Linked DNA regions of Homo sapiens: region 1 is linked to region 2. Evidence: fine-mapped QTL for protein levels in blood plasma. A gene starts in region 2. The other region holds a variant in brackets. All regions are shown on one strand. Distances are from middle to middle.

What was found. PIP is the posterior inclusion probability: the model's chance that the variant is causal. The UK Biobank Pharma Proteomics Project read protein levels with antibody pairs (Olink). The fine-mapping took linkage between variants from a reference panel, not from the people measured, so its PIPs are less certain.
Region 1: its variant is fine-mapped to the plasma level of the CD244 protein (UK Biobank, PIP above 0.99). The variant lies in the coding sequence of CD244. If it changes the protein, the assay may bind it differently, which can mimic a change of level.

The regions. Positions count from the first base shown.
Region 1 is chr1:160,838,502-160,842,499 of GRCh38, forward strand. It overlaps CD244 (CD244 molecule), which reads right to left. Exons shown (of 9, transcript NM_016382.4): 2 at 3,083-3,400; 3 at 2,709-2,984; 4 at 438-548; 5 at 1-17. Among named protein-coding and RNA genes, the nearest start is that of CD244, 22 kb to the right of the region's middle. The variant C/G (reference allele first, on the strand shown) is at 3,083.
Region 2 is chr1:160,857,968-160,866,395 of GRCh38, forward strand. It overlaps CD244 (CD244 molecule), which reads right to left and starts at 4,920. Exons shown (of 9, transcript NM_016382.4): 1 at 4,650-4,920. The coding sequence starts at 4,710. RefSeq lists an enhancer at 4,736-4,785.

The DNA of each region.
Region 1 (3,998 bases), 22 kb before region 2:
TTCCTTGGGACTGGTCTCTGAGGGAGGAAGAAAACAAAGAGCAGAGCTGCAGAAACCTCCAGAAGGGCTTTTGCTTCTAACAGGTCCCACCTCTACCCCAAATGGCCAAACCTTAAAAAAGGTTCTAGAAAGGAGGCAAGTTAATGCTCTTCCCAGGAACCCCAAAGAGCACAGAGGCAGCAACCGAACTGCCCCTCCCACACCTCCTCCCAAACCAGCTGTCTACAGGGAAATCTGCGCATTGGGATCAGAAGGCATGAACTGGGAGAGAGAGCCTAGCAACCTGCTTGCCCCCCGCCACCACGCACACAAACATACCAAAGCTCGTTGAGGAAAAGGAGATGCTGTGCTCCCAGACACATCCCACTGGACGCAGGACAAAGTCACAGGATCCAAGGCCTCAGGCAGGAGCACCACCCTAAGGACCTTCCACTCACCTGACTGCTTCTCCTTCCTCTTTCTCCTCCACACACAGAAGCAGGCAAGGGTGCCAAGGAACAGTGCGCTTAGAATCACGATGATCACCAAAAACGGCCAAAATCTGAATTCTGAGGAATACAGAAGGCGTGAGAACTGAGCTGTCAGCTCGCTCTCTTCTTCCTTCCCACCTGCCTGCTGCAGGGGCTGCCTCAAAACCCACTTTTCTCTGTGTTGTGGCTGATTGCCTCGTGCTCTGAGAACTCACGGTCAAGGTTTTCTCTTTGCTCATTTGGTTAACCTCCTCTGAGTGATGCCAAGAGCATAGATATATCAGACAGGCCTGGCTCAAATTCTAACCCTGTGAGCTCTGCACTATTTATTTAACCTCTCTGGGCCTCTCAAGTCATCTTATTTTTGGAAGATGCCTCAGAGCCTCTTAGATTTTCTCACCTGTAAAAGGGGATAACGTTATCTACCTATAGGGGTTAATTACATGATCTAATACAGTTGCCCTCCAAAGTTTTGAGTTCCACAATGTGGATTCAATGAATTGTGGATCCAGAATATTCAGGGAAAAAAAATGCATGTGTATTGAATATGTAGAGGCCTTTTTCCTTGTCATTATTCCCTAAACAATACAGTATAACAACTATTTAAATAGCATTTACATTGTATCAGGCATTATAACTAATTTAGAGGTGACTTAAGTAAGGTATACAGAAGGATGTGTGCATAGGTTATATGCAAAAACTGCACCTGTTTATGCCAGGGACTTAAACATTCGTGGATCTTGGCATCTGTGGTTGCGAGGTGGGTCCTGGAACTAATTCGTCATGGATACTGAGGGACATGTAGCACAACAAATGTTACATTTATCCATTCCTTTGTTTTTAACTCAAAAAATACTCATTGTACAGGCAAGTTTTCCGTCTCACTTTTCCACTATTCCTTCCTTCATGGCTCTTCCTCATTTGAACTTCTACTTAAAAGATTTGTGTCACACATGTAGCCTGATATATAATCCAGCCAACAAGAGGAAGGAAAAGGAATTAAGTGTTCCAAGGGCTGACAAGGCTCTTTGCAAACATTATCTCATTTACTCTTAACAGCAATCCTGTGAGGTACTTATTATCACCCCCATTTTACTCAAGGGGGGAAGAAAATTGAGGCTCAGAGAGGTTAATGAATCTGCCAGAGATCACAGAGCTTCTTTTTTTTTTTTTTTTAAATAGAGATGGGATTACACCATATTGTCCAGGCTGGTCTCAAACACCTGGACTCAAGTGATCCACCTGCCTCAGCCTCCCAAAGTGCTAGGATTACATGTGTGAGCCACCACACCTGACCTCTAAGAGATCACAGAGCTTCTGAATGATGAAGCCAGTGTCCTAGTTCAGTGGCATGATCTTGACTCACTGCAACCTCCGCCTCCTGGGTTCAAGCAATTCTCCTGCCTCAGCCTCCTGAGTAGCTGAGATTACAGGTGCCCGCCAACACGCCCAGCTAATTTTTTGTATTTTTAGTAGAGACAGGGTTTCACCATGTTGGCCAGGCTGGTCTCAAACTCCTGACCTTGTGATCCACCCACCTCAGCCTCCCAAAGTGCTGGGATTACAGGGAGCCACTGCGCCCGGCCTGCCTCAGTCTTGTTTCTTTTTTGTCCACAAGTAGTTATTTTTGTTGCCCCATTTGGCTATAAGTTCCTTATGAATGAGAGCTGTATGGTTTTTTTTTCCTATAATGCCCATGCTGCTGGTACATTAAGTCCCTGTTTATGTAATAAAAAGTTGTGGAACGGTAACTCAGGTAACTCTTAGGATGAGCATAAGCAACAGCCCAAGAACTCATCTAGGTATCCCTGGGGTCATCCTGATGCTCCTGCTCCAGGCTACTGCTGCACAGTGTAGTTACCTCTTGAACTATGTGGCTTGGAGAAAGTTATCACTCAAGAGGAGAGGACAGTTCTCCATCAGCCTCTCCCAGGAAGAAAATAATGTTCAGGAGCCATTTCAGGACTGTCACTCACCAAACAACTATGCCCTCCCTCTGCAGAAGAAAAGCTTGCATCTCCCAGAAGGAAATAGGGATAACATTTTTTTCCAGAGTAGGATAGGCCTAGCTTTACAGGAACTGTGTGCCTGGAGGCCAGGGCTACCCTGGGAAGGGCTACAAGGCACTGGGAGAGGAGGCCAAGGGATTTTATCTCATACCACATCTGTCTTGCACATGAGCCTGGTTGCGGGGTCCAAACCTTCAGCGCTTGTTATAGCCCAGTGTGTTCCACTTACCCTGATGGGCATTCTGACAGTCCTGAGTGAGATTCAGGGTGTGGCTTTCCCAGCTAACAGGATTGCTGACATTGCAGGTATATGTGTGAGTGCCATTAATGTCAACCTCCTCGTCCAGGTAGGTGAGGTTCCCTGCTGTCTGGATCAGCTTGCTCCCTCTGTACCAAGCATAGGACACATTGCCATCCCTGGAGACCAAGCAAGACAGAGCCACTTGGCATCTCCCTCTGTCCAGGATCTTCCCCTGCCCCTGTAGGCGGGGTTTCTCAACTTTATCTGGAAGCAGAGATTCTGATCAGAAAGGCATTGGAAATACAGAACTTAGAGGCCTATAGGAATCAGAGAGGGCAGTATGAACAGTCCTGGAGACTTAC[C/G]AAATACAAAAACCTGGAACGTGGCTGTCTGAACTTTTCCAGATATACTGGTGACCTCCAGGCAGTAGAGGCCACTGTCCTGCTGCTGAGCTGCCTTGATGAGAAGACTCAAGTTCTTGACTATAAAACTGAATCTATCATTGGAAGTATTGGAAGGCAAAGAGCCATTCTCCCACTTCAATATGTGATGAAATCCATTTTGTGAGGGCAGCAACTTCTTCCATGCAATGCTGTCAACCTTCGTCTGTATGCTGTTTGGTTGTAACTGAAGAGGCACTCCCGAGATGCTAACCACATGGTCAGCTGATCCCTGGCATCCTAGGAAAGAGAACCCAAGCTGAAAGTAGCGGGAAGAGTGTCAGGCCTGAGCAATGTGGGCAGCTGGATGTGACTTCCCTTAAGCCAATTGGGTGGGGATGAGTATGAGGAGCCCAGAACCTAGGAGCACCTTAAAGCATATCCCCTCCATCTGCCTCCCCTTGTCCCCAAGCTCTGTGTCCCTAGTCTGAGGGATCCCATAGACCAATAGCTAAAATCTTGAGTACTTACTATGTGACAGGCAGGTTTCACACTTTATACATTTTAACTATTTAAGTTAAAAGGTATGATGAGTTAAAAGAATGATGAGCCTGAAACCTAGTCAGTTTGGTGTTATGTTTTTGTTTTCTTTTGTTTTGTTTTCTAGAGACAGGGTCTCACTCTGTCACCCAGGCTGGAGTGCAGTGGCGCAATCACAGCTCACTGCAGCCTTGAACTCCTGGGCTTGAGGTGATCCTCCCATCTCAACCTCCCTAGTAGCTGGGAGCACAGGTGCTAGGGAGCTTATTTGTTTACTCTTTGTAAAGACAGCAGTTTGGCTTGAGAGGATAAATTCTTAACCATGATGCTATAAATACCACATCTAAGGTGACTCCCT
Region 2 (8,428 bases):
GCCCAGGAGGTCAAGGCTACAGTGAGCTGTGATCACATCACTGCACTCCAGCCTGGGTGATAGAGCAAGACCCTGTCTCACAAAAAAATAAAAATAAATAAATAAAAATAAAAAATTAAAAAAAAAAACAAGACATGCCCTGTCTCTCCTTGAAGTGATTTCAGTGGATTCCTTTCTGGATGGTGCTGTAGCCCAGGGTACATTGAATTCCAATCTCTTTTCTGTGTCCAGCTACTTTGCCATTCACCCTTTGTTGGAGGGGAGGTGCAATGAGGAAGAGAAGAGCAAAAACGACTCCAGCCCTTCTACAGCTTGCCTGGATCCCAGCCAAAGCAGTCGCAGTTAGACACCACTCCCTGAGAAGTGACAGTTCCAACACAATCTACGCAAACAGCTGGCAACCCTTGGAGCTAATCTATAAGGTGTCACCTGTGCCCTTTTATTGTCCAGCAGATCTCAACTCAGGCTGTAAAGCATCTGGGGATTCATAGCCTCCAGCCTGTGTGTCCTTTGGGGTTTCCTCAGAACGGACAACTGAAACCTGAATTTTGGGTCTAAAATGAATTTTAGGGCCCAGGCCTATTCCCTGGGCAATGATTTGAAGATCCCTCCTTCCCAATATGTCTAACCCAAAAAACATCCCAGGCTGCCCGTTAAGATGCCTGAAAATAATTCACTTATTCACTCAACAAACATGTTTTGAACACCTACTGCATTGGCACTGCACCAGGCACTAATCACAACTGTAGTAACAGTGACTCAGGCAATCTAGCGCAAGCTCTCTGAACAAACGGGCCCTGGACTTACTTGCCACTGAATCCTCAATAGCCCTGGTTCAGAGCTATTCAAAATATATCCAGAGAAAGAATGGGAACAGAGAGGGGGCTGCTATTGTGAAAATAAGTATCTACTGAGGGTTGACTTGTGGCAGGTACTGCTCTAGATGTTGAGGAGACAACGGTGAGCAAAACAGACAAAAGCCCTGGCCTCAAGGATCTTACAGTCTAGGGGGCTGAAGAGGAGACTGGGAGACAGAAAATGAAAAACATAAGTAAACAGGATGGAACATAAATGGAGATGAGGACTATGGAGAAAAATTAAGTGGAGAGAGAGCTAAGAGTTTGCAGAATGGCAGGCTGACATTTTCAGTGGGGAAGGCATCACTGAAAAGGAGGTATTTGAGCAAAACTCTGAGGGGTTGAGGGAAGAGGCCATGTAGCCAGCAAAGGAGCAGCATCCCAGGCAGAGAAAACTGTGGATACAACAGAGAGCGAGGTCCAGGACCAGCAGGCAACATGGCTGAAATGCTGTGAGCAAGAGGAGAGACAAAGAGGAGTGGGTCTTGGACGCCAGGTCACGCACCATTGTAAAATGCATGGCTTTTACTCTGCATGAAAGAAGAAGTCTTTGGAAGAATTTCGCAATGCTCAAGAGTTATATGCACATCTTACATAAATAGTACTCCTGTTAAATTATTCAGTAAACAAAGTGGTTTTTTAAATTTCACTGTCATCATATGACTCCTGATGGGATGCGCTGAAAAAGACACAGTATCACTTTTGTGGTATTCCTGTCAAAAATGCATATAATATCTGCTGTCAATGGGCACAGAAAAAAATTTTTTTAAAGAAAAAATAATTTTAAAAATGCATATGATGGCTAGGCATGATGGCTCACACTTGTAGTCCCACCACTTTGGGAGACTGAGGCAGGTGGATCGCCTGAGCCCGGGAGTTCAAGACCACCCTGGGCAACATGGGGAAACCCTGTATCTACAAAAAAAAAAAAAAAAATTAGCCAGGCATGGTGGCACAGACCTCTAGTTCCAGCTACCAGGGAGGCTGAGGTGGGAGGATGGCTTGAGCCTGCGAGGTCGAGGCTACAGTGAGCCGTGAGCATGCCACTGCACTCCAGTCTGGGTGAAAGAACCAGATCCTCTCTTGAAAAATAATAATAGGCCGGGCACAGTGGCTCACACCTGGTATCCCAGCACTTTTGAGAGGCGGAGGTGGGTGGATCACTTGAGGTCAGGAGTTTAAGACCAGCCTGGCCAACATGGTGAAACCCTGTCTCCACCAAAAATACAAAAATTAGCCAGGCTTGGTGGCATGCATCTGTAGTCCCAGCTACTCGGGAGGCTGAGGCAGGACAATCACTTGAACCCGGGGGAGCAGAAGTTGCAGTGAGCCGAGATTGGACCACTGTACTCCAGCCCAGGCCACAGAGCGAGACTCCATCTCTAAAAAATAATAATAATGATGATATAAAATAAATAAAAATGCATATGATAACCTGAATCATATGAGGGAACATCAGACAAACCCAGATTAAGGAACCCTCTACAAAACAACTGGCTTGTCTTCTTCAAGAATGCAATATCATGAAAGATGAAGAAAGGTTAAAGTATGGTCATAGACTGAACATGAGAAACATAACAACTGAATGTAATACATGATCTTGATTGCATCTTGGGTCAGCAAAAAAAAAAAATAAAGCATATTCTTGGGACAATTGGTAATATGTGAATATGGAAAGCATATTTGATGGTATTAATGTTAAATTTACTGAATTTGACAATTGTGCTGTAGTAACATGAGAATGTCTTTGTTCATAGGATATAAGTGCTAAAATATTTAGGAGTAAGGGGACATAATGTCACAACTTGTTCTCAAGTGGTTCAGCAAAAATTATTGTACATTTATACACACATATACATACAGCTAGAGAAAGAGAAATAAAGTAAATGTGATAAAATGTTAATTGGTGAATCTAGATGAAAGAAATTCAAGAATCGTTTGAACTATTCTTGCAGCTTCCCTGGAACTTCACAATTATTTCAAACTAAAAAGCTTAAAAATTAAAGAAATAGAGCAGCTTCAGTCAACTTATGCCAGGCCTGCCCTATAGACACAGGATGGAGGAGGAAGCAGCTCAGGAAGACCCAAGTCCATCCCTCCCTGTGCCTAACAAGTCACTCACCAGCTTCACCGTGCAAGGGCCGGCATAGCCAAGCCCAGCTATGGTGCTGAAGCCCTGGGAATGGGGGTGGAGGGAGCATTGCCCTCTGTCACACAGGCTCATGACCTCAGGGTCATAACCTCAGCTTCTCTGTTACTCTCATCCCCACAGCCAGGCACCAATCCCATCAGTCCTCCTTCGGCTGTCTGAGCTGCATTCAAGGATCCTTAGACCAGGTTCCAACCTAGCTCTCCTGCCTAGAATCCTGGGCCACTAGGCCCCCCAACCCACCCACAAGAGCTGCAGGCTCCACTCCTCCCTCCCTGCTCCCTGTTCCTCATCATGCTCTGCCCTAGGCTGCCTGCATCCTTACAAATGTTGAGTCCACCTGAGCCTTGACTGTGTCTTCCTGAAGGACACAAGAATGCTCAGGGACTCGGTAACTGAATTGAGTACCTGGGCATGGGACTTTATTGCATATGGGGCTTCTACCTGGCCCTGAACCCACACAACACTATGCCTCAGTTTCCCCTCTTTGTGCCCAGAGTGTACCCTCCTCTAATTCCACGCTCTCCACCTCCGTGAAGCCCCTGCAGAGTCACTGATCTAAAATGCAGAACCCTGGCTGGGCATGGTGGCTCACACCTGTAATCCCAGCACTTTGGATGGGGGAGACCAAGGTGGGCAGATCACCTGAGGTCAGGAGTTCAAGACCAGCCTGGCCAACATGGTGAAACCTGGTCTCTACTAAAAATACAAAAATTAGCCAAGCATGGTGGCGCACGTCTGTAATTTCACCTACTCGGGAGGCTGAGGCATGAGAATCACTTGAACCCGGGAGGCAGAGTTTGTAGTGAGCCAAGATCACGCCACTGCACTCCAGCCTGGGTGACAGAAGGAGACTCTGTCTCAAAAAATAAATAAATAAATAAAAATTAAAAATGAAATAAATAAATTAATTCAATTAAATTAAATGCGGGATCCAGGTTTCAGAGCATCCTGGACCCCAGAACTGGAGAAAGAGGGGAGCAGCCCTCAGCTGGGATCCCCAGGAGTAAATGTTAGATGGCTCCATGCCTGGCTGACAGCTTTAGGTTTGCTGTGGAGCTTCCTCATATTGTCTCCTTCTTCTGCCCCAACCCTGCATGTCCCTAATAATTTCCAGGCTCCTGTGGCATCTGGATGGCTGAAGAAGCCGGGGAGATGAGGGACCATGCCTTCCAGCTTCTTCCTGGCTGCTGGCCTCGCCCTCCCCTCCCTGGGCTCAGCTTTCCTGCCTCAGGGGTCCATCCATCTGTCTCTGAGCTCGAGAACCACCCACTTCCTTGGGACTGCTTCTCTTCTCTCATGCCACAATTGGAGGATGCAATTTTCATCATCTTTACAGGCGGCTGGAAGGAGGCTTCTCTCTCCACTACACGGAAGGGTAAATTGAAGCCAGTGGGAAGGAATCTCCTCACCCAAGACTTCCTGGATTGCTGGTGGCAGGGCCAGATACCCCTCTCACAGACCTCCCAGTGCACTGCCAGCCTGTCCTGTCTGATTTAGACTGTCAGAGCTGTCAGGAGCTGCTCGGAGTCAAGTTCCAGATGACTGTGTATGTGGCACAAGCAGAGGCTCTGGCTCTGATCTCCCTGAGGGGCACAGCTCCTAGTCCCTCCCTCGCCCCACGCCAGGTAGGACCTCCTTACCTTTGCCCTGATACACCTTGAGGAGCAGGAGGAGTATGAGGGTGACCACTTGCCCCAGCATTTCCACAGGACAGAGGGGCCAGGCCAGCCCCTCCACCCCACCAGACTCTCTGCCGTGCACGGGCTCAGCAGTCCCCAGTCAGCAAGAGGACGATGGGGAGCAGAACTGCCTTGCAACCTGTCCAGCCACAGTTTCCTCAATTAGAGGCTGTTAACGCCTGCTGTGAGCTGACAAGGCCACTGAGAAAGCCCCAGCGCCTGGAGCTGGTCTGACAGTTCCCACAAGCCAAACTGGTGAAGCTTACCTCAAGTGGGAGGGTGCTTGAAGTTCACAGTGACTCACAAAGCCAGTTTCAAAATTGCATCCCGTTCTCTGCTTCAGCCCAAGAAGTCTTCCAATTCTCTGAATCCTATATGGAGAGACCCCCATGGGGGCCAAACAGCCAGTATCCCCAACTGTTCCATTCCAACAGACATTGTGGAGGTGGAGTGGAGAGGGGCTGGAGGAGGAGTGGGCTGAAACGTAGGGCCCTGGATAAGCGGCTAACAGTGTTGAAGGAAAGGAGGAGTAGCTGAGAGAACATAGGAAGAGACCTAAGGGCTGGAGGCACTAGAAAAATCTAGCAAGCCTGGGGATTCCATGCAAGTTGACACCAAAGTTTAAGCACATGTAAATTAAATTTGTTTCATAAGAATTTGTTTCACACGGGGCACAGTGGCTCACGCCTGTAATCCCAACACTTTGGGAGACTGAAGCAGGCAGATCACTTGAGATCAGGAGATCGAGACTAGCCTGGCCAATATGGTGAATCCCCACCTCTACTAAAAATAGAGAAATTAGCCAGGCTGGGTGGCGTGCACCTGTAATCCAAGCTACTTGGGAGGCTGAGGCAGGGGAATCACTTGAGCAAAGGAGGTGGAGGTTGCGGTAAGCCAAGATCACGCCACTGCACTCCAGCCTAGGTGACAGAGCGACACTGTGTCTCAAAAAAAAAAAAAAAAATTTTGTTTTGCTCCACATTTCCGATCTGTATGCCTAGATTCCCTCCCTTCCTCTTTTTCTACTTTTCTATAGTAGTCCTCTCTTCCCTCTTTTGTCTTCTCCCAGAAGTGACATGGGCCTATTTTTGCTGCCTTCCCATCCATGCTTGGACGCCACCCTCCAGGAAGGCCAGGCAGCTCTGGATCTGCTTAGGCCCCCATGGAGGGGTGGGGACAGCGGCATCCCCCCTCCCCTGGAACACTGTGCTTCAAGGCCAGGCCCCAGGGTTCATGCCTCTTTCTTTCTTCCTTCTGCTTTCCCCTTAACAAATACTTTCAGTTCCCTTCAAGTCCGCTCTTATTCTCTTTTTCCATCCTTTGGTCCATTTCCAGCCACCCTGTCTGAACTGGGCAGGGGGCAGCAGACTGACAGCTTCAGCTGCCAACAGAGGCAGCAGCGGGGCTCTGGACAGAGCGCTGGATTTAGAGTCAAAGACTTGGACTTGCAGCTCCCATTCAGCAACTTACAACCTATGTGATTCTGGCCTTGTTGCTGTCTGAGCCTGTAGGGTCAACAATACATCCTCCCCACCTTCACAAGGCAGTTTTCAGGATCAAATTAAAAATGATACTCCAGAATATGCACACAAAAAACACTGGACATAGATGAGGTTTTTGTGGTTTTGTTTTCATTTTTTTAAGCTCTGAATAGCTTTTTCCAGCGGGTCTAATGGTTATCATCTCTTCTCTCCTTTGTCTGCTCCCAAGGGGCAGCCCTCAACCCTGGGGAATTTCTTCAGAGTTGATCTGGCCATGTCCTTAACCTTGAGAAGTGGTGCACAAGACATGATATAACAAAGAAGGGTAAACTTCCTCACACGACAGGTGGAAAACAAGATCCAGCTGTTGGAACCCACTAATGAATGTGAATTAGGAATCAGCCTCTCCAATCCTGACCCCAACACCAGCTCCATCCTTCCCACCAGGCATGTGGATGACCTATCATCCCCTGGAAACAGAACTCGGAGCAGCTGTACCACTGAGTGTGTGTCTGTCTTGTGGTCCCTGACAAACTCTATCACACAATATCTGCTATTTGTAGGCTGATCGCAGTGGCTCATGCCTATAATCCCAGCACTTTGGGAGGCCAAGGCAGGTGGATCACTTGAGGTCAGGGGTTCGATATCAGCCTGGCCAACACGGTGAAACCTCATCTCTACTAAAAATACAAAAATTAGCCGGGTGTGGTGGTGTGTGCCTGTAATCCCAGCTACTCGGGAGGCTGAGGCAGGAGACTCCTTTGAACCTGGGAGGCAGAGGTTGCAGTGAGCTGAGATTGTGCCTCTGCACTCCAGCCTGGGAGACAGAGCAAGACTCTGTCACAAAAAAAAAAAAAAAAAAAAAGGTGCTGGGCGCAGTGACTCACACCTGTAATCCCAGCACTTTGGGAGGCCTAGGTGGGTGGATTACCTGAGGTTAGGAGTTTGAGACCAACCTGGCTAACATGGTGAAACCCCGTTTTTACTAAAAATGCAAAAAATAAGCCAGGTGTGGTGTTGCATGCCTGTAATCCCAGCTACTTAGGAGGCTGAGGCAGGAGAATCATTTGAACCCAGGAAAAGGAGGTTGCAGTGAGCCGAAATCACGCCATTGCATTCCAGCTTGGGCAACAAGAGCAAAAACAAACAAACAAACAACAATAATAAAAAAAAAAAACAACCTGCCATTTGTTCTACACACTGACCTCCCCAGCCCTGAGCTCTTCAACACAAAGTCTATGCTCTCCTTAGCTTAGTGTTTCCAAGCCTCACCCAGCGCCTGGTTCTTCAGAGTTGATTCGTAGATTGTCAAGTGCTGAAGGAATGAATGAATTCTCTAAGGAAGACATTTCTATTTCCCCTGAGATAGACTGGTTAGCTGAGTCACCATGGACCCTGCCCTCGTGGAGTTTTTATCTTGCCCTTCCTAATTTTTGTGCAGAGAGTCCTTCTGTGCAACTCAGCCACTTTAGCACGAGGACCCAAGACCTACAAAATCAATATAAACCAGAGACTCCCTTAGCTACATTTCCCATACATATTCACGAGATCTTTATAAGTCTGGGACAGGGGACTCAGACAGGGGCATTTAAAGGTTAGCGGCCATCTGGGAATCAAAGGTTCATAAACCCCTGCCCAAACCATGCTTTCATCAAGCTTCGGTGAGTCAAGGTCATTCCAGTAAATCCCACTTCTGATGCCAACTACAAATTTCATGAGTCCCCAGGACCACCCATTTCTGAGACAAATTGCAAGTTTGAGGTCCCCAAGACCATCTTCAGGTTTGATAATTAACTAGAATGACTCACAAAACTCACTGAAAGCTGTTTTACAAATGTTTTACTCAAGCCTTCACAAAGAACCCAACTGATCTTATAGGTATAGTCAACCAATCTTGCAAGAATTCAACAAATAACTTCTGTAATATTAGAGTTTATTAAAGCAAAAAATACAGATGAAAATGAGCCAAGGGAAGAGGTACCTAAGGCAAGGTCCAGGAGAGTCCCAAACAAAGGAGTCAGTCACAGCACTTCCAGTTCTCCTCTCCCAGTGGAGCTGTGCAGACAGGGCCTACTTCTCCCAGAAACTATGTGTGACAATACACACAGAGAATATTGTTAAGCAGGGAAGCTCTTCCAAGTCTTGGTGTCCAGAATTTTTATTGGGACTTGCTCACATAGACATGGCTGACCACCCATGTGGCTGACCATAGTCTCTGGCCCCTCCAGAAATTGAGTTGATGCTATGTGGTCAGAGCTC